4 linked regions of the Homo sapiens genome follow. The protein of the gene in region 1 interacts with the protein of each later gene in a pairwise test. Each region holds a gene or a part of one and is shown in the gene's direction. Other genes may lie near its edges.

Region 1 (7,237 bases):
AGCACTTTGGGAGGCTGAGGTGGGCAGATCATGAGGTCAGGAGTTTGAGACCAGCCTGGCCAATATGTGAAACCTTGTCTCTACTAAAAATACAAAAATTAGCCAGGCATGGTGGCCTGCACCTGTAGTCCCAGCTACTTGGGAGGCTGAGGCAGAAAAATTGCTTGAACCTGGGAGGCGGAGGTTACAGTGAGCCGAGATCACACCACTGCACTCCAGCATGGGCAACAGAGTGAGACTCTGTCTCAAAAAAAAGAAAAGAAAGTAAATCAGTGTATCATAGAGATATCTGCACTCCCATGTTTGTTGCAGCAGTGTTCACAATAGCTAAGATTTGGAAGCAACCCAAGTGTCCATCAACAGATGAATGGATAAAGAAAATGTGGTACTTATTCATGATGGAGTACTATTCAGTCATTAAAAATAATGAGATTCTGTCATTTGCAGCAACATGAATCAAACTGAAGGTCATTATGTTAAGTGAAATAAACCAGGCACAGAAAGACAAGCATCGCATGTTCTCACTGATTTGTGGGATCTAAAAACCAACCAATTGAACTCACAAAGATAGAGAGTAGAAGGATGATTACCAGAGGCTGGGAAGGACAGTGGGGGTTGGGGGAAGGTGGGGAGGGTAACGGGTACCGAAAAACTAGAAAGAATGAATAAGACCTAGTATTTGATAGAACAGGGTAAGTATAGTCAATAATAATTGAATTGTACATTTTAAAATAACTAAAAGTATACTTGGATTGTTTTAACACAAAGGATAAACGCTTGAGGGGATGGATACCCAACTTTCTGTGATGTGATTAGTACACATTATATGCCTGTATCAAAATCCCTCTGTACCCCCTAAATATATACACCTACTATGTACCGACAAATATTAACAAAAAAGAGGAAATAAAAGAAGAAAAAAGTCAGAAGTCTGAACTAGTTCCTTTGGTGTGATAATCTTGCTAACAACTTCTCCATCTTTTATTTTGTGAATAAAAGGAGTAGGCATACTCTAAACAAAGCCTCTTTTATTATTAAGTTCCTTCTCATATTTGGAAAAATCCTTAATTTAACAGTCAGGAATTAGGCAATATCATTAAAGTACTATTTTACATCCTGAAAACAAGGAATTATTTTTACTTTTTATTTAATTTAATTAATTTATTTATTTATTTGAGATGGAGCCTTGCTCTGTTGCCCAGGCTGGAGTGCAGTGGCGTGATCTCAGCTCACTGCAACCTCTGCTCCCTGGGTTCAAGCGATTCTCCGGCCTCAGCCTCCTGAGTAGCTGGGATTTCAGGCGCAGGCCACCATGACTGGCTAATTTTTTTATTTTTAGTAGTGACGGGGTTTTGCCACGTTGGCCAGGCCAGTCTGGAACTCCTGACCTCAGGTGATCCGCCCGCCTCGGCCTCTCGAAGTGTTAGGATTACAGGCGTGAGCCACTGTGCCCAGCCTATTTTTACTTTTTAAAAAATTGAACATATAAATATATTTTGAGGCGTGCTCTTGCTACGTTGCCCAGGCTGGTCACGAACTTCGGGGCTCAAGCAATCTTCCTGCTTCAGTCTCCAAAGCAGATAGGACAACAGGTAGGTGTACACCACCGCACCAGGCTCTGAACATTATTTTTAATTCATATGAAGCAAAATTCAAAAGGCAAAATAAATTACAAAGAGCAAAAATCTCCTTCCCACCCTGTCTCACAACCAAACAGTTCCTTTCCCCAAAGAAACCAAGGTTACCACTTTGTCTTTTCAAATACATGTTACACATACACAAGCAAATATGAATATATCTTCCACCTTTTTACACCAATAATAGAGTATATAAATTGTTCACAGCTTCATGGTATTGGATTTTATGGATGTACTATACCTTATTGAATCAGTCCCCTATTAATGGACATTTAATGTTGTTGTTGATCTAATCTACAAACAATGCTGCAGTTAACAATCTTGTACATACATCGTTTTACATGTGCACGAGTATATGTGAAGGAAAATTTTATTAAAATCGACGAATATTTCCAAAATGCCCCCAATAATATACCAATCTTGCATTCTTCTCTACAATGTGTGAGTCAGGGACAGTTTTAGATCAGGAAGGTATGACATGGAAGATGGGGACACGTTGTAAATTTAGAATGCTACCCACTTGGCTATGGTTTTAGTACCCTTAAGAATCAAAGGGCTAGGCGCTGTGGCTGACGCCTGTAATCCCAGCACTTTAGGAGGCCAAGGCGGGCGGATCACGAGGTCAGGAATTCGAGACCAGCCCGGCCAAGATGGCGAAACACCGTCTCTATTAAAAACACAAAAATTAGTCGGGCGTGGTGGTGTGCACCTGTACTCCCAGCTACTCGGAGAGGCTGAGGCAGGAGAATTGCTTGAACCCGGGAGGCGGAGGTTGCAGTGAGCTGAGATCGCGCCAGTGCACTCGAGCCTCGGCGACAGAGCAAGAGTCCGTCTCAAAAAAAAAAAAAAAAAAAAAAAAGAATCAAAGGGCTCACAGAGCATAATAGTATTACCAAACACAATTTGTCTAGACATTCAGATAAGCTGAACTAATTAAGCTTTTTGCCTTTTCAGTCACTAAGTGCACCAAAATAAATTAGAATTTCCTGAATCAATTAGAATTTCCTTAGAATCAATTCAGTGGTGATGACAGGGCCCATTATGATGCAGAGTATATACTGAGGTCTGTGGATCCTAAGGCTCAGAGGATTCTCGCCGCAGCGTTGTTCGGCCCGAAAAGGCCATTGTGGACAATGGACGTGAATAAATTTGAGGCCTCTGTGGGTTTTCTCGATGTCAAAAAGTTCCTCAGTACCTGGAAGGTAAAACATACTTGCTGCAATCAGATGCTTGGCATATTAAGCGTTGGAATTCTCTCTGCCTGCCCTGCCTAGTGAGCGGTAGGGAGGAACTCAGGCTCAGCCAATCGCCGAGCTGTAGATACATTCCCAGGCTCCCTGCCGGACCCCACAACATCCAGCCTTTTTTTTGTTTTTTCTTTTTTTTCTTTTTTCTTTTTTTTTTTTTTGAGACGGAGTCTTGCTCTGTCGCCCAGGCTGGAGTACAGTGGCGCGATCTCAGCTCACTGCAACCTCCGCCTCCCGGGTTCACGCCATTCTCCTGCCTCAGCTTCCCGAGTAGCTGGGACTACTGGCGCCCGCCACTACGCCCAGCCAATTTTTTTGTATTTTTAGTGGAGACGGGGTTTCACCGTGTTAGCCAGAATCGATCTCCTGACCTCGTGATCCACCCGTCTCGGCCTCCCAAAGTGCTGGGATTACAGGCGTGAGCCACCTCGCCTGGCCTTTTTTTTTTTTTTTTAAGAGACAGAGTCTCAGTCGGTCGCCCAGCCCGGAGTGCAATGGCGCGATCTCGGCTCAGCAACCTCCGCCTCCCAGGTTCTAGCGATTCTCCTGCATTAGCCTCCTGAGTAGTTGGGATTACAGGCGCGTGCCACAACGCCCGGCTAATTTTTTTGTATTTTCAGTAGAGATAGGGTTTCACCATGTTGGCCAGGCTGGTCTCGAACTCCTGACCTCAAGTAATACACCCGCCTCGGCCTCCCAAAGTGCCGGGATTACAGGCGTGAGCCACCACGCCTGGACATTTTTTTTTTTTTTTTTTTTTTACAGGGTCTCATTCTGTGGCCCAGGCTGGAGTGCAGTGGCGATCCTGGCTCACTGCAACCTCTGCTGCCTGGCTCAAGTGATCCTCCTGTCAGCCTCTCGAGTAGCTGGGACTACAGGCGCGGTGCGGGCTAATTTTTTTTTTTTTTTTTTTTTTGTAGAAACGGGGTTTTGCCGTGATCCCCAGGCGGGTCTGGAACTCCGGAGCTCAGGTAATTCGCTCGCCTCGGCCTGCCAAAGTGCCGGGATTATAGGCGTGAGCCACCATTCCCTGCCCACCCGACCTTTTTGTAATTCGGCTTCCTAGCAGCGTACAGAAGCCCCGCGCTAGGGTACAGACAGGTCACGTGACACCACCTCCTCACGTGACGCAGACTCTGGAGCGGGGGGAGGGCGGTGCTCCAGCTGCATTGCGTCATCACGTCGCGCGGCCGCAGGGGCCAGACCCGGACGGCTCCAGAGCCTCCAGAGCCTCCGGGTCTGGGCGGCGCTTCGGCTCCTCCCGAGCCGCCTGCTAGCCCCGCGCCGCACTCCATCCCCACAGGCTGGGGACGGGCCCGGTGCGGCTGTGTGGGTTCGGGAGCGGAGGTGAGTTGCGCGGAAGTGATGGCAGTCAGCCCTTCCCTTCCTGTCCGTCAACTCCGGGTTATGGCCCTACCCCCCATCCTTGGTCTCCCTGCAAGGCGGAATGGGAGACATGCCCAACAGAGGAGGAAGGCTGGCAGTGGGGTGGGGCATCTGGCCTCGGTCACCCTCTCAACTCTCCCCCTGAACTGCCCCTCTCCGATACCTCCACCTGGCGGTGGCGGCCATATGCCTGGTGGTATTAGGAGGAAGGACTTCGTTTCCTTCTCTAGAATTTAGTCTTTCCCGAGTTTACTACCCATTCCCTGCCCCGAATCTCCCGAAGTGGAATCCCTCCATTCAGATGTTAACGAAAGTTCTAGAAAATAGGTCACTTCAGAAGGGTGAGGATGAAGGATATGCTGAGACTTGGAGTGTTGAGGCAGGAATCCCCTAGAAGGAAGACCACTCTGCACCGGGGTACTGTCATTTTGACACGGAAACGATAAAAGACCCCCCGGGCTGTCTTCATAGTAAATGGACATTTGTTCTAGACCTTTTTACACCCCTAGAGTTGCAACTAAGTTGACTTAAGTCTTTTTGAAAAACATATGCTTTGATGAATCACCCGCTTTTCTGTAAAATGGGTCTTGCAGAGTTGTTGGAGGAATTATCTATAGTGCTTATAGAGTAAAATGCCAACTACAAACAGAAGTAGATGAGAATTTAGGATCTCATTTTTCCTGTTGAAAGATTAATTGTGACTTGTGGACTTTTGGAGACCACAGTTTGATTTCCTTCCCCCCGGATCATTTCAGAAAGTTTTGGATTCCAATATCGATTCTTTAACAGTAATGGACATTCACAGATGTAGAGTAGGAATACCCTCTTGTTGAAGAGCTTCAATATCTTAAGCAAGTGTAAGTCCATCGATAACTTGCGTGGTTTCCATTATTCAGTGTAGGTAATGGGTCCTCAATTGAAGTTTCTTTTTTTTTTTTTTTTTTTGAGACAGAGTCTCGCTCTGTTGCCCAGGCTGGAGTGCAGTGGTGTGATCTCGGCTCACTGCAACCTCCACCTCCTGGGTTCAAGTGATTCTCGGGCCTCAGCCTTCTTGGTAGCTAGGATTATAGGCGCGCATCACCACGCCTGGCTATTTTTTGTATTTTTAGTAGAGACTAGGTTTCACCATGTTGGCCAGGCTGCTCTCAAACTCCTGACCTCAACTGATCACCCACCTCAGCCTCCTAAAGTGCTGGGATTACAGGAGTGAGCTGTTGGGCCCGGCCTGAAGTTTCATTTTAAGAAGAAATCCAGATATGTTTGGAAGTCATCAGACATATCATTTGGATACTTCTTTAGAAAAAAGTTTATTTTTACTGAGTGGCCTTTCTTGCTCTAAGTTGAAGTTGAATACACACTTTTTCTTACATTAAATTCTAAACATTTATTGTGCAACTTCTAGGATAGAAAGCATACATATAAAGCAGGATCCTCTTTTTATGTATGCTCTAAATACTTATCTACTTAAGGACATTAAATAGTAATAATATAACACCTTTAAGAAATTTTATATTTTCGGTTTATCATTTGAGACAAGAACCTTGTCAAGATTTACAAGACATATATTGTTTATCTCTACTTACATTTCAGCATTGATCATATTAAATGTCAAGTGGTAGGGACACTCCGTGATAGAGGAATTCAGAGGAAGAAGAGAGAGCTTTTACATGGACTAGATAGTGGCTAGTGGTTGGTGGTGATGCCAGGCATAGGAGTGCCCTCAACTTGTGTATGTTTGGGTCTGAGGAAGCCTCTTAGGTTCTTAATTTGTAAAGCTAATTAAATATGTTCAGTTGCCCTAGTTCTTTGAATATGCTCATTGTTTTTTTTTCCCTCTTGTAGTTGCAGAATCCAAGGACCCATTTTGTTCTTTCTCCGCACTGCTTTATGGGAGGCATTATGGCCCCCAAAGACATAATGACAAATACTCATGCTAAATCCATCCTCAATTCAATGAACTCCCTCAGGAAGAGCAATACCCTCTGTGATGTGACATTGAGAGTAGAGCAGAAAGACTTCCCTGCCCATCGGATTGTGCTGGCTGCCTGTAGTGATTACTTCTGTGCCATGTTCACTAGTGAGGTAAGTGGTAAATTAGCCCCACACAAATGAAACCCGTGGAACTCTAGTTGTCTAATTTCACTGAATAAAATAGTGGAAGTTTGATATAATTTTGAATTTTTACAGTGTGATGTTTTGGCAGATTCTGGATAAGATCTACCACTTAGATGACTATGCCTTAGTTTCCTCATCTTTAAGTTAGGGATAATAGTAATATGTAACACATGGTTATTAAGGTTGTTGTGAAGATTATTTTATGAAATAACATAGGAAGTGCTTAGAATAGTGTAATATGTAGTAAAACACACATGTCAGCTATTGGATTTTACTATTTCTTAAATTTGTCTTCCAATTTTTCTCCTTTTTTTGTTTTTAATTTTATTTATTTATTTGTAGAGACAGGGTCTCACTATGTTGCCCACGCTGGTCTTGAACTCCTGGGCTCAAGCAATCCTCCTGCCTTGGCCTCCCAGAGTGGCCACACCTGGCATTACAGGTGTGAGCCACGGCATCCAGCCTTTTTTCCTTCTAAAGTTTAAAAATTTTTAAGTGAATACCAGAGGGATAAGGAGGAAGGAAGGAGAGAGGAGTAGGATTCAAACCACATCCCACTCCTCCTAACAATATGTGAAGAAAATCAGTGTAAATTTTAGGATAACTTCAAATGAAAGGAAGAAGAGTTTTTAATGAATAGCTGTACAGGCGTTGAGTGTATAACCTGAGAAAGGATGTTAACTCATAAGCACTTAACAAAGGGAATTAGGAAAAGGTTGGCTTGAGAGAATACAGGTAGTGCTCACAAAGTATTAAGAAACACTACTTAGTAATTGCCTGACAAAATACTTGAAATGTATAGTAAGGCTGCTGAATATATTGTGTTGAATATTCTTAGAAAGCTGAACAGAA
Region 2 (7,042 bases), on another chromosome or scaffold:
TGAGTTGACTTCTGAGAATTTGAGAACCGACTTGTGATCTGCTTGAAACGTGGCCCAGGACTTTCTGCTTATACAGCCCTGCCAATTAACATAACATCAGCTTTATTTTACTGTTTGATCCTGATTTTTCCTTTGCCTTAATTTCTTTGTCTAATTTTGCCCTATACTACATACACTTTGTGTACATATGTACACACACACACACACACACACACAATAGTTTATTTTTTGTCAGCCACCACAAATCCTTTTTATAGGAAAATCTTTAAATGGTGAAATGAATTGTCCCAGTTGGTGGTGGTCTGTTCTTTATATTCTGATTTTCTTCAAATAAGATGTTGGAGTCCCTTAAAACTGAGAAGAGACAACTGATTTTATTTAGAAGCATATTCTCTGCCCTGTGTCCTGGTGTTTACTTTTCTTTTTTCCTTTCACTTTACTTTTGTACGCAGCCGTCTCTCTATTCTCCAGCCAGTCACCCCACCCCCAGGCAACATGCAGCAGTACTACTTAACAATACCTGGTCTACCAGGGATTCTAACCTATAACATAGTATGCACTAGAAAGCCCCAGACACAGCCCCACATCCCCAGGACACAGTAAATTGTATAACTATCTGCTCTCTGGTTTGTTTCAGGGAAACTGACAGATCTTTATGAAAAACTTTGCAGAGAGTGGTATGCTGAAAAGAAATAATCACATAATCACACACGGCCTCCCCCAAGGAGCATTTAGGGCCCTATCATTAATCTTTGTAACACTCCTATGAAAGAGGTGGATGGCATGTTCTCTCAGGCCAGTGTTTCATAGGTGAGGGGACAGGGCAGGCCTGGGCTTGCACATGGTCTAGAAGGGAGGAAAGAAAACTCAGCACCCTTGAGGCTCCCACCAGTCAGCCCCAGCACTGACATCTCCCATGCAGCCCGCAGCCTGGGCAATGCAGATTTTGTCTTTTACAGGAGTATTTAGCTTTTTGGGGGCAGGTATCCATATATGGCCATCCATAGCTCTTTCCGGCTTGGCAGTGCTCCCCGGACAAGCAACTCCTCACTGCACCCCATGCTGTCAGTAGCTGGCAGTAGGTTGAAATTACAGGCCTCTAGGCAAAGGTTTTTCAGAAGGTTTCGGCTCCAGATCACCTCTTACAGAAATGTATGAAATGCTCTGACCACCCACCGTTGGGATTTCCTCCCTGTGCAAACCTGAGCTGTTTGCTGGGCCCCAGCAACTTCTCTAACCCCTTATTCTCATAGGCACTCAGCACCAGGAGCTGAAAATAAAAAGGTGGCAAAGTCAGCTCTGATGCCAATCTTCTGCCACACAGCTGTGTATAATGGTTTTGCTGTTATCATTTTGCAGCCTGAATCACTTTCCCTGAAATGCTGCAGGTCTGCACTTGTGGCCTAGTAACTATTTAATGAAACTGATAATTAATCTCCTATACCACGCTCTGTTACTTGTAGAACTAACGTCCACAATGCAACAGTAGAAGAATAAAATGCGTAAAGATGAGAAAAAAGACAGCAAGTTGTCAAGATACAGTAATTGGTAAGGAATTAAAAATAGAACCTCCTACCAGATTACAAGATGGCCTCTCCCTTCCAAGATGGATATCAAACACTTTTTTGTCACAATCTGAAGAGATACAATTATCATAAGCCCCAGAAGGGGTTTCTTCCTCATGTGCTTAGTGAGGTCTGTCTTTAGGAACCCAAACAACTGTTATAAAGTGGATTCCTATATATCTAGGAAGTGAAAAGCTAGAAGGCTAGAAGGCAAAAACTTAAAGTTCTGTGCAATACAATAATTACGTTACAAGTAATAATGTTTACAGGGCACTCAACATATGCCAGGCATGATAAACAAAATGCTATAGAAGCATTGCTTCATTTAATACTCATAAAAATTGATGAGAGATATTTCCCCATTTTACAGATGAGAAAACAGAGTGTCAGAAGTAAATTGCTTCAGATCACTCCTCCAGGAAACCAAACAGCCTGAGTTTGAATCCAGTTTTTTCTGACCTCATGGTTTTTTTTTTCTGACCTCATGATGATCACTCTCCAGTTTTGCAACATCCTGAAATGTCTTCTGAATTATCAAATAAAAATTAACTCATTTGTGTTAAGTAGCAGTGTCATATTTTAATATCAAGTGGGTGGTCTTCCGAATATGTAAGTTTTGTAAAATAAGCCAACAAAAAACACACCTCACAGAACTAAGAAATCAGATGCTCAGATTGAAGGGATATTGTGGGAACCAAATAAAATCTTGAATATGAAAAATCTTAGGAAAAGACATAGCATTCTACGGAAGAATGACAATGTCATTGCTATCAAAAATATCAGTGTGGGCTGGCTGCTATGGCTCACGCCTGTAATCCCAGCACTTTGGGAGGCCGAGTTGGGCAGATCACTTGAGGCCAGGAGTTTAAGAGCAGCCTGGCCAACATGGTGAAACTCTGTCTCTACTAAAAATACAAAAATTAGCCGGGTGTGGAAGCATGCATCTGTAATCCCTGCTACTTGGGGTGCTGAGGCAGAAGAATCTCTTGAACCCGGCAGGCGGAGGTTGCAGTGAGCCAAGATCGAGACACTGCACTCCAGCCTGGGCGACAGAGTGAGACTCCGTCTCAAAAAAAAAAAAAAGTCAATGTGTATGTGATATGTGTGGTAATTCTCAGTTGACCAGCATATTCTGTATATCAAAATATGTGCTTACCTAACCAATTTACACACCGGTCACTTGTGAACAAGCCACCTTTTTACCTCGTTGTCCTGTGAGATGCAGAACCACGCATATTTTAGAGCTTAGGCATTAGAACTTTTCCTTTTTCAACTTATTTCTGGGCCACATCCACGTCCCCAGTTTCTCTGGAAAAGGCTGAGAAAACTCCTAAAGCGCAACAAAGTGTTAAGTTGCTGACACACGAATTACAATTAGGGTCACCGTCAAGGGAGCCGATTTACGGCCCCCCTCCTCCGTTTTCTTGTTACCTATCAACGCGGCTGCATACACTAGCAGGTAGCAGCACCTGTAATTAATTTGCCCCCACGTGTCTCATTTGATGGGGGGGGGCGTTTCCAGCTCTGATGTGCGCGGCGTGGAAACAGTATTAAAGCCGCTCAGGACAAGGAGATGTAAGGCTCCCAGAAAGACCTCCTTACTTGTTCCGAACTCGAGTTATGAAGAAGACAGCGCATGGTTTATTGACCAATGAAACAACCAGAGAACTTTCTTCTAAAGGTTTTAAGGAAGAGTGATTACACTATATAAATAGCGCTATTTCAGGTTTGAACAATTTGAGAGGCCCGTTGTAGCCTTTCAACTCCTCCTTCCTCACATAATCTAAGAGAAAAGAAGACTAAGATAGTTGCAAATCTCAGGGTAGGTCCTCACGGAGGAAAGACGAACACTGGCCTGACCCTGGGCTTTAGAAACCCATGGACAACAGGAAGGAAGCTTATTAACCCCTCTCTTCCCCCTCCCTCTTCTCCCCGGTGGAGAATCAGCTCCTCCTCCTCCCGGTCGTGAGACCCTGGTGCAAAATGCAAACAACCGCCCGCTTTCCCCACCCTGCGCGCTTCTCCCAGAGGAGGGAGAGGGAAGAGGCGAGGGCGCAGCCCCAAGCCGAGTCCAGCAAGTCTGTCAATCGGACGTGAACGTCCCGACGAGACAACTTGAACCTCAGGGCCCTCGCGCCAGCCGGACACCGCAGGTACCCCCTTTACCTGCTTCTCTGCTGGGTTTGCATCCGATACCCCAACTCCTAGCCTCATTTTCCCCCCAGCCCCATAATATTCCGGACCCCTGCTCCCCGTGCAGGTGGTGCAAACGCCCCTGCTCTCCGGCGCCCCCTGCCGGGAAGAGGGAAGGCGGCGGCGGCCGCGGAGGAGCAGGACGCTTGGTCCGGACGGAGCTCGGCGCTGGGAAGAAGCCGGGAGCTTCCCTGATGGTGCCGCCGCCTCCGAGCCGGGGAGGAGCTGCCAGGGGCCAGCTGGGCAGGAGCCTGGGTCCGCTGCTGCTGCTCCTGGCGTTGGGACACACGTGGACCTACAGAGAGGAGCCGGAGGACGGCGACAGGTAAGCGCTGCAAGCCCCAGCGGAGGGCGAGCTCCTGCTTGATGCGCGCCCGGCTCGCGGGGTGCGGGCGGTCCTCCCCGGCGCCCACTCCCACAGCGATCCGCACGCCCTCACTTCTCCGGGGATAAGGAGAGTGCTCAGCTGTCCTGGGCGACACTTCCCTCCGCTCCCGGGTATCAGCCTTTGCGCCCTGCCATCCGTGGGTCGCGTCAGGGATACCCTTCGCCCCGCGTTCCTGCCTCCCCCCGGGTGCCACACTGGCTGGCACAGCTCGTGAACCCCGCTTCCTTTCTCCTGGAGCTGGTTCGCTTCGTCGTGACCCTCGCGTGGCTCGTCCCTGTGGCCGGAGTCTGCCCCGCGTACGCGTTTGGGGACCAGCCCCTGCCCAGAGCGCCGGGACGGGGAGCCTGGCGATCCCCACGCGCCAGGGATTCCCCAGCGCGCGCTGCCCGCCTCCGCTCTCCCGCTGAGAATCGAACATTTCCTCTGCACTTTTTCATAGAGAAATCTGCTCAGAGAGCAAAATCGCGACGACTAAATACCCGTGTCTGAAGTCTTCAGGCGAGCTCACCACATGCTACAGGTAAGCCTGGGGGCTCTGCGGGCTGTTCGCCACTGCGCACCGGGGCTGGCTGGGGAGGCGGCGCTGTAAAGGAGGGGTTTGGAGACGCGCTTGGGACCGGAGCAGCTTTTACGCTGGAACCTGCTGGGTGCGTGCCGCGCGGTGCGAATCTTTGAGGGTTGGTTGGATCGGAGTCAGAGCAACACTGAGCAACTGACTTTGCGTCTAGGGTGTGTGCCCTGAGATCCTGAGGATGGTTGCCGCTCCCTGAAATACTTGTGTGGAAGTCTGTGAAGGAGATTGGATTGGATTTTGGGTGTAAACAGTGGGGCATAGCAAACACGGGTGGCTGCTTTCGTATTTGTGTTTTGTTTTGAAAGTACAGCGTCAACAAGGCAATTCTTGGCACTTGTCTGTCTTCTGACCTTCTGTTGGGGCAGAGTGTGGCTGTCACGGCCTCTGGACAAAAAAGTAGGGGGAGGATTGTGAGTGGTTGTGTTGAGTGAAAACAAAAAGATTGTTGGGGCAGAGGAAAAAAGTCTTTCTAAAAATGTGGGCCACAGATTCACCTGGGTATTTGTTAAATGAGTGACCCGGGTGCTTGTTAAAACTAAGCGTGGATGGGGCTAGGGAATCGGTAGTTATAAAATGTTCCCCAGGTGGTTCTTGTCTCTGAAAGGAGAGAACCACTGTTCTGCTTGCAGCCTTTTGGAGATGAGGGTTGATTTAGGTTTTTCACCATTGAATTCTTGGTTCTGTTCCAGTGCTCTCACTGGATAGGGGAACATGCACCCATAAACGTTTATTGGATATCTGCGTTTTAGAGGCGCTGTACAAGGTAATGTGATCATATGCCCACACCTGACTGTCTCTGGAGACTCACATGCTCTGTTCGGGTTGCCAGGATAAATACTGAGTAGTACAAGGTAACGCAGCAGTCCCTAGAAACGAACTTGAAAGAAAACAATGTTTTATTCCTTATAAGGTTGTAGCCTGTGAATCAATCATAGCGTTTCTTGCAGGTGAGAGCATTTCATATACCCAAAGGTTCAGACCAAGTGGTTCCACGGCTGTCAGTTTATGGGTGCAAAAGCACCATCAGTTACATCGCGTACTTCTGCTCTTAAATCTGTTGTTGGCAGTGAAGGGACAATAATCAGGCAAATCAAGTCACTCCTTGGGCTTAGGAAAGGCTCCTTTCTCTTGGCGTGTGCGGGGGGTGAATGCTGAACAAAATGAGAGAGGTAGTAGAGGAGAAAGGAGTATGTTCAATTGGCAGGTTAAGACTTAAAGAGGCTAACTGGGTGAGCAAGGTCACCGAGCTGGTGAAGTGACCTGGTGGTGCTGGCAGCAGGATTGCTTGCCTGGTTCCAGCCGTGTCTTTCATCCACACGACCACAGTGTTTCTTAGGACACATTGTTTTCCTATCAGCACAGTATAAAGCCTCGAATTTAACATGGGAAATGTCTCTGAGATGGTTTGCTCATTTTTTCAGTCCCTGAAGGTCGGACTTCACATAAATCAGTGACAGTTACAGAATGCATGTTAGATTTTCAGAAACCATTTGGTGCCTGATTGTTTGTTAATGCCATTACTGTCATCTTTTCCAGACTTCTTAAAGCAGTGTGGTGTTTCTTTTATACTCTTTGAACAGGAGACACTAGCAGCACCTTGGCATGTGTTTTCACTAATAGCTACTCAAATTGCTATGAGATCTCGCAAAAATGACATTTTATATCAAGGAGAATAAAGAACTTTGTTTAAAGGAATGGGAAACGATGCTTTCAGCTTGAAAGTGGTGTTGATCCTTGTGTATATGAAAAGATCTTAGATTTTGTTTTTAGATCTATTTTCTCTATGGAAGTCGAGAGTTCTCTGTATTCCGTTGGTCTTATCCTGTTTCTATAATCTACTCTTCTTGAATCCCAAGAATAGAGGATATTATTTTCCTTAGTTTGTGACTTGATTGTCCTAGCCCTTTATACCCTCACTACCTCAAGTATCATCTGGAAACCAGCCGCACAGCATGATTTTGGGAGCTTGTTGGAATCCTGGGCCTCTGCCCCCAGATCTCTTAAATCAGAATCTGTCTTAATGAGAGATGCATAAAATCTTGAAGCACTGCTGTAAGAAACCAGTGTCCTCATCCCCAGGACGCATGCAGACCTATTTAGACAGATCCTTAAAGGAGCATGGAGGCCTTTCAGTTGACCAAACAGTTAGCTCTCCTACCTCACTAAACTAAAGGTTAAACTAAAGTGAGATAAAGAACCAGCATTCCAGGAAGCCAGTCTTTAAAGGTTACTTTGAATTGAGCTGTAAGTAATACAGCATTACTGATGATGGAATGTTCTTTGACTGTATAGAATTCTCTTTACCAGGTGGCTGTTGGTGAA
Region 3 (3,885 bases), on another chromosome or scaffold:
CGTGTTCTTCCACCCTGTGTCCCAGGTGGCTACTACCTGACCAGCCTCTCTGCCAGCCTGGCCCTGCTGAGTGGCCTGGGTCAGGCCCACACCCTCCCACTGAGCCCCGTGCAGGAGCTACGGCGCTCCCTCAGCCTCTGGGAGCAGCGCCGCCTGCCTGCCACCCACTGCTTCCAGGTAACAGGCCCTCCACCGTGTCCTCAGAGCCAGACGCCATCCCCGCCTTTCACCTTCCTGTCCTTGGTGAAGAGTCCAGACTCTGTAGACAGATCCTGGGTTCTAATCCTGGCTCTGCCACTGGGTTGTGGGGACTTGGGCGAGTTACTTAACTACTTCGTGCCTCAGTTTTCTCATCAGTAAAATGGGGTAATAGGACCTACCTCCTGGGGTTGAGGTGAAGATTAAATGAGTTAATGCAGGAGAGTGCTTGGGGCACAAATTACTCACTATCAAATCTTCATCTCAGGCTTGTGAGCGCCCCACTGGGCTGTCCTTGCACCTGCGGCTGTGGCCCACAAGCCGACCCCTGGAGCACATAGAGCTTTTGCCGCTTGGTTCTCCCACTGGATCTCCACCTACCCACCCTGTCCCTGCACAGCCCAGAAAGCTGATGTCTCAGCTTTGGAGCCAGATGCATGCCAGCCGGGGCTGAGTACTTGTTTTTGCTTCTCCTCCTGCATAGCACCTCCTCCGAGTAGCCTATCAGGATCCCAGCAGTGGCTGCACCTCCAAGACCCTGGCCGTGCCCCCAGAAGCCTCGATTGCCACCCTGAACCAGCTCTGTGCCACCAAGTTCCGAGTGACCCAGCCCAACACTTTTGGCCTCTTCCTGTACAAGGAGCAGGGCTACCACCGCCTGCCCCCTGGGGCCCTGGCCCACAGGCTGCCCACCACTGGCTACCTCGTCTACCGCCGGGCGGAGTGGCCTGAGACCCAGGGGGCTGTGACAGAGGAGGAGGGCAGTGGGCAGTCAGAGGCAAGAAGCAGAGGGGAGGAGCAAGGGTGCCAGGGAGATGGGGATGCTGGGGTCAAAGCCAGCCCCAGGGACATTCGGGAACAGTCTGAGACAACTGCTGAAGGGGGCCAGGGTCAAGCCCAGGAAGGCCCTGCTCAGCCAGGGGAACCAGAGGCAGAGGGAAGCCGGGCAGCAGAGGAGTAGCTTGAAGTGGCCAGAAGGGTCATTCGGGGCGGGAGACCCTGAGCCTGCTGAGAAATCCTTTTAGCGCCAGCAAGCCCCACCCAGGGCCCTGTCCTGTGTCTGCCACCACCTTTGTCTGATACTTGTTTCCAGGGAAGCTGGGGGAACTGCCACATCTGAGGAACTGGAATAAAGATGAGGGGGCTTCGGGGGCCCCCAGACTGTGTGCCCAAGGCCCCTTGCCTCTTGTTCTTCTCCCCCAGCTGAGGGTGAGCCAGCCTGCAATGAGGGTGTGCCAAGTGGGGGCGAATCCGACAGATGCCCAACCTCTGACGTGGGGAGGGTGACGGTCTCAGCTCCTTTTACCCTTCCCCTCATGGGCATGGCTGAGGCAGGGCTCCACCCAAGTATCTCCCACCAGGCTGGGACTTCCAGACCCTAAAAGGTTCCAATGGCTCTTAGGTGTCAGGAGGATTTAGAGAGGCCACAGAACAGCAGCAAAGGCTTGGGGCCCACCCCTGTCCTGGACACCAGAAGGACCTGCACCTGCAAGCCTCAGTACTCTCATCTGTAAAGTGGGGACACTATTGCTGCCCTGCTCGGCTCCCAGAAGTGTCCCAGTGATCAAAATGGGTGATTTTGCTACAAGCAGAGCTCATGGCAGAAAGGGAGGGAGAGAGCTGGGCTGCTAACTCTCTCCCGGAGTCCGCTCTCTGCCAGACAGGGCTCCCACCTGCTGATGCCCAGTTCAGGGAGGTTATTCCCCTGGAAATCAGGCCCTGGGGAGAAAGTACCCAAGTTACAGTCTCTCCCCAAGATTTGGAGTCCTCCCAGGCCCTCCAGCATCTCTGGGGAGATCCACCAGCTGGCAGATAAGCTTCCAGAATGGAGAGGGGGCTCAGAAACCATGCTCTCTGCACTAAACTCTTGGCCCTCACAAAAGCTTTACTTGGCCATGACTTGTTGGGCCCACTGAGGGTCAGGAAAGTGACTCCCAGGATGTCATATAGCAAGTCCTTAAGGGTTCCCCCGCCCAAACCAGGGCATCAGGTTCCAACTCCACCCTCCATTCTAAGCCACCCACAAAGGCCGGGGCAGCCCCCAAGGAAGCCCAGAGCAGGCAGCAAATCCAAACAAGGAAAAGTGCCGACCACCAACCACGAGGGGGTGTGCACGGCCCGGGAATCTGCCGAGAGGGTGACCACCCAGGGGTGAGGGCGCCTCCAAGGCTGCAGCAGCAGAGGGGGTCCCGGGCCTTGCAGTCCAGCAGCATCAGGCAACCTGGGGACAGCGCAGGGGCCAAGGCCACTGGCCCCCAGGTCCCTTAGATTCTGGGGTCTGGGTAAGGCCAGCCTCTTGGGGGCCATCCCCAGGAAGGAAGGAATTGTCCCCTTATGGAGGATGACCCCAGAGGCTCTCTCCTCGGGCACTGAGCACAGAGGGGACGTCAGCCCAAATGTCAGACATGACAACTGGGAGGTAGAAATCGTGGACATTGGCTTTTTGGGTTTTTTTGTTTGTTTGTTTGTTTGAGATGGAGTTTTGCTCTGTCGCTCTGGCTAAAGTGCAGTGGTGCCATCTCGGCTCACAGCAACCTTCGCCTCCCAGTTCAAGTGATTCTCCTGCCTCAGCCTCCCGAGTAGCTGGGACTACAGGTGTGCACCACCACACCTGGCTAATTTTTGTGTTACTAGTAGAGACGGGGTTTCCCCATGTTGGCCAGGCTGGTCTCAAACTCCCGACCTCAGGTGATCCGCCCGCCTTGGCCTCCCAAAGTACTGGGATTACAGGCGTGAGCTACCACACCCAGCCAGACATTGACTTTCAGATGAGCAGTCCAGATACAGCCCAGTTGCACGGCTCCCATTTTTTTTGTCACTAGGCCACCAGCAGCTCTTCCCTCCCCACTTCCACGCCCTCCCAAGGTTCTCGCTGATAGGAAGTGTCCCGTTGGCTCTTCTATTCCCCTCCCTGTTTCACCACTCACCCCTAGTGCCTCACACAGTCCAATGCTGAGCACAAATGCCATAGGTGTTCAATAAATGTTGTTCACTGATTGGAGTTTGATAACCAGGAGTGAGGGACAGTGAGGCAGAAACCTGGGGAGTATAAGGGAGGACTCGGTTCTGGGAATCAAACACGGGATGTGTCAAGCTCAGTCCCAGAGGAAGGACCTGGAATGTTTGTAGAGGGTGCTCGGAGGATCCCAGGGGCCGGATGTACAACTGGCCTCATGGGAATGAGGCTCTGGGGCCTCTACAAGCCCTTCCCACCCTTGCCAGGCTCAGCATGACCTGACCCCCTCCCTGCCCTCCCCAGTGATGGGGCACCACAGGGAGCTGCTGCCTGGGTCTTGTGGTTTTTCTTCTCAAGAAACTCTGGGCTGGGCCTGGTGGCTCACGCCTGTAATCCCAACACTTTGGGAGGCCGAGGCCGGTGGATCACCTGAGGTCAGGAGTTCAAGACCAGCCTGGCCAGCATGGTGAAACCCCGTCTCTACTAAAAATACAAAAATTAGCCAGGCGTCGTGGCACACACCTGTAGTCCCAGCTACTGGGGAGGCTGAGGCAAGAGAATCACTTGAACCCGGGAGGCAGAGGTTGCAGTGACCCGAGATCACACCACTGCACTCCACCCTGGGCAACAGAGCAAGACTCCATCTCAAAAAAAAAAAAGAAATGAAAAGAAAACAAAAAAGAAACTGATTGGTCAGGGGTCCAGGCCAAATCAGCATCAACAAGATTATG
Region 4 (3,359 bases), on another chromosome or scaffold:
CAGGCCCAGCTCTTCCTCGGTGGTGAAGCAGTGGAAAGAGTCGGCTTGGGCAGCTGTGGGTTCAGGCCCTGCCTCTGCCACTCTGCAGCCTATGGTAGGAAGGGCCCCTCTCTGCCCTGAGCCTCAGCCCTAAGAGCTCATCCTGGTCTCCAGCCCTGAGACCCGTGGAGGCACCAGCCTGGCCCTCAGTGCCTTTTGGTGACGCTGTGCGGCCCGCTCTCCTACAGAGACCCTGAGGGCGCGGTGGCTCACGCACAGGACGTCATCTCGGACCTGCTGTGCAACCGCATCGATATCTCCCAGCTGGTCATCACCAAGGAGCTGACCCGCGCGGCCTCCGACTATGCCGGCAAGCAGGCCCACGTGGAGCTGGCCGAGAGGTCCTGCGCGGGGCGGGTGGCCTGGCCAGAAATAACCCCCTCCTTCCTGCCAGCTGGGCCCACTTCCTACACCCTCGCCCCCACCCCCGCCACCCACCTGCCCTCACCCACCCGCCACCCCATCTCCACGCAGGATGAGGAAGCGGGACCCCGGGAGTGCGCCCAGCCTGGGCGACCGCGTCCCCTACGTGATCATCAGTGCCGCCAAGGGTGTGGCCGCCTACATGAAGTCGGAGGTCAGGCCCACCTGGCTGCCTGCTCCCGCCCAGCCCCCTCGCTCTCACTTCTGCTTTCCGAGATGGGCGGGCCTGCGGGAAGGGTGGGGCCTCCCGTGCCCTGTGGGGCCCTGAGAACCGCCCCCCATGGCAGCCTGGGTGTGGCCTCGGCCCCCTCTGGAGGTCCCCCCTCTATTCTGACCCCTCCCTTGCTTCCCTATGGAAGGGGCCCCAGTCCCTCCCCTGTGCATACAGCTCCCCAGCCGGGGGTTCCCTTGGATTCATAATCCTCCAGCTCTACCCCCACCCCCAGTGACCCACATCTTAGCCCCATGACCTCTGACCTCCTGACCCCTTCCTCATCCTTGCTTCCCCTTGTGAACTCTGACCCTTCCGTGGTGACCTGAGAGCCCTACAGACTCTGTGGCCCAGAGACTCCGTGACCTCCGACCCCATCCCAGACCCAGGCCCCCCCCATGTCACAGCCCGCAGGCAGGCCTAGGCCCTAAGCCCCAGGCCCCATGACCACCCCGTGTCCACCCCGGTGCCCTTTCCCTGGCTGCCCGGGTGTGACTGCCATGTGGCCGCAGGACCCGCTGTTCGTGCTGGAGCACAGCCTGCCCATTGACACGCAGTACTACCTGGAGCAGCAGCTGGCCAAGCCCCTCCTGCGCATCTTCGAGCCCATCCTGGGCGAGGGCCGTGCCGAGGCTGTGCTACTGCGTACGGGGGCACCAGGGGACTGGGGGCACCCTGGGGGGGCAGAGGAGATCACCGGCCCACCACCTGCCTCCTCTCCTGCAGGGGGGGACCACACGCGCTGCAAGACGGTGCTCACGGGCAAGGTGGGCGGCCTCCTGGCCTTCGCCAAACGCCGCAACTGCTGCATTGGCTGCCGCACAGTGCTCAGCCACCAGGGTGAGCGGCCCTGGCCACTGGGCCCCCACTGGCCCTCAACCTGCTCTGCCGTCACCCCAGATCCTAGACACCCACCCCATCGGCTGGCACTGCCACCCAGTGGGCCCAGGGCCCCTGGGTGGGTGGCCCCTGTCTCCACCCCCCACAGAGGGTCCTCGGCCCCCACCCCGGGAGTTCCCCAGGGGAGTTTTCCCAGCACACTTGCTCCGTTGTTCTCCAGCCTCTGGGGACTTTCAGAAGCTGGGATTGGCAGTGGGCAGGGATGGGGTGGCCCAGTTCCTGGCTGGGCCCCAGCACTTGGGCTGACCCGCCTCCCCACAGGAGCCGTGTGTGAGTTCTGCCAGCCCCGGGAGTCTGAGCTGTATCAGAAGGAGGTGAGAGGGCCGGGAGGTGAGGAGGGGCCAGGTGGGGAGGCGGGGGCGCCCTGCTCAGCCGCTGCCGTCCCCAGGTATCCCATCTGAATGCCCTGGAGGAGCGCTTCTCGCGCCTCTGGACGCAGTGCCAGCGCTGCCAGGGCAGCCTGCACGAGGACGTCATCTGCACCAGGTGTGTGCCATGTCCCGACCCTGGGCTGCCCCGCCCCTTCCCAGCTCCCAGGCCTGTGGGTTGTGGACCCAACCTCTGACTCCAAGGCCTCTCCTGAGCATCCTCCCCGCCCATCCCCTTCCAGCTGTGAGCTGTCCTGAGCCTCAGTGTCCTTGTCTGAAAAATGGGCCCATCCCAGCCCCCCAGAGGGGGTGGGTGCTTAGGGAGGCAGCGCCCGGCACCCAGTGTTGCCCGGGAAACGGCTGTCCTCCCGACACACCCAGCCAGCCTGGCCCCCTCCCCAGGGCGGGGCCGGGCTTTCCCCAGGGAACGGGTAGGCGGGGTGGGTTCCCACGCCAGGTGACAGGTGATATACGGCCAGCCATGGCCCTGCACCTCGCCAGGCACCCGCTGTTATCGGCTCCCCCCCCCCACCCCCCCCGTGCCTGCTGAGCAAACAGCCCGCTGCGGGAGGGGGCGGGTGGGCTGGGCAGCAGGCGGGGACCAAAGTCCTGGGAACAGCCCCCACCCCTCTCCCAGGCTGGGCACTGGGCCTTGGCTGGTCCTGACCCTGCCCCTGCCCCCACCCGCAGCCGGGACTGCCCCATCTTCTACATGCGCAAGAAGGTGCGGAAGGACCTGGAAGACCAGGAGCAGCTCCTGCGGCGCTTCGGACCCCCTGGACCTGAGGCCTGGTGACCTTGCAAGCATCCCATGGGGCGGGGGCGGGACCAGGGAGAATTAATAAAGTTCTGGACTTTTGCTATATGGTGCTTTGTGGTCTCTGGGGGACACTGTCTGGTTTCATAAGCCCTGGCCTTGGCTGGGACCCTCCTGAGGCCCGCACCGCCCCTCATCCTCAGCAAAAGCCCCCGGACTCCCACCTGTGCTGCCTGGTTCATGTGGGCCAAGCCTGCCTCAGTTTCCTCTCTGGCCCTGAAGGAACCCTTATACCAGCGCTTCTCTGCCCTGCTTAGGGCCCCCAGGTGTCTGGCCCCGGCCCAGCCCTCCCTGGTGATGACCCTGGGGACCCTGGTGGCTGCCCCGCCCTCCAGGTGCTGACCTGTTTCCTCCAGGCCCTGGGGCAGCCCCAGGCGCACCGGGGCTTCCACTCCTCAGCCCGGCCAAGGGGACCCCCCCATCCCCCGCCGGACCACACACCCACGATGTTTCCACGTCGGGGTCCTGGCAATGGGCTTTGGGTCTGGGTTTCCCCCCAGCGACTCCCATCTCTATCCCCGCAGCCTCTAACTGCCGTCAGATGCCCTCGGCCCTCCCGTCACCTCACACATCCCCCGGGGAGAGTCTTGTGCTTGCCCCT

What was found.
Region 2: the proteins of KLHL12 (region 1) and CCBE1 interact in binary tests that used the Homo sapiens proteins (3 or more experiments, as listed by UniProt).
Region 3: the proteins of KLHL12 (region 1) and RIN1 interact in binary tests that used the Homo sapiens proteins (3 or more experiments, as listed by UniProt).
Region 4: the proteins of KLHL12 (region 1) and POLD1 interact in binary tests that used the Homo sapiens proteins (3 or more experiments, as listed by UniProt).

What each region holds. Positions count from the first base shown.
Region 1 is NC_000001.11:202,924,083-202,931,319, reverse strand, and holds the start of KLHL12 (kelch-like protein 12), read left to right. Parts: upstream 1-4,085; 5' UTR 4,086-4,231; intron 4,232-6,112; coding exon of another isoform or gene 6,113-6,157; coding exon 6,158-6,352; intron 6,353-7,237. UniProt on the Homo sapiens protein: Substrate-specific adapter of a BCR (BTB-CUL3-RBX1) E3 ubiquitin ligase complex that acts as a negative regulator of Wnt signaling pathway and ER-Golgi transport.
Region 2 is NC_000018.10:59,694,253-59,701,294, reverse strand, and holds the start of CCBE1 (collagen and calcium-binding EGF domain-containing protein 1 precursor), read left to right. Parts: upstream 1-3,871; 5' UTR 3,872-3,952; coding exon 3,953-4,083; intron 4,084-4,585; coding exon 4,586-4,666; intron 4,667-7,042. UniProt on the Homo sapiens protein: Required for lymphangioblast budding and angiogenic sprouting from venous endothelium during embryogenesis.
Region 3 is NC_000011.10:66,329,550-66,333,434, reverse strand, and holds the end of RIN1 (ras and Rab interactor 1), read left to right. Parts: intron 1-25; coding exon 26-177; intron 178-682; coding exon 683-1,159; 3' UTR 1,160-3,194; downstream 3,195-3,885. UniProt on the Homo sapiens protein: Ras effector protein, which may serve as an inhibitory modulator of neuronal plasticity in aversive memory formation. Can affect Ras signaling at different levels. First, by competing with RAF1 protein for binding to activated Ras.
Region 4 is NC_000019.10:50,415,211-50,418,569, forward strand, and holds the end of POLD1 (DNA polymerase delta catalytic subunit), read left to right. Parts: intron 1-227; coding exon 228-380; intron 381-513; coding exon 514-616; intron 617-1,185; coding exon 1,186-1,318; intron 1,319-1,399; coding exon 1,400-1,513; intron 1,514-1,834; coding exon 1,835-1,887; intron 1,888-1,961; coding exon 1,962-2,059; intron 2,060-2,631; coding exon 2,632-2,737; 3' UTR 2,738-2,804; downstream 2,805-3,359. UniProt on the Homo sapiens protein: As the catalytic component of the trimeric (Pol-delta3 complex) and tetrameric DNA polymerase delta complexes (Pol-delta4 complex), plays a crucial role in high fidelity genome replication, including in lagging strand synthesis, and repair.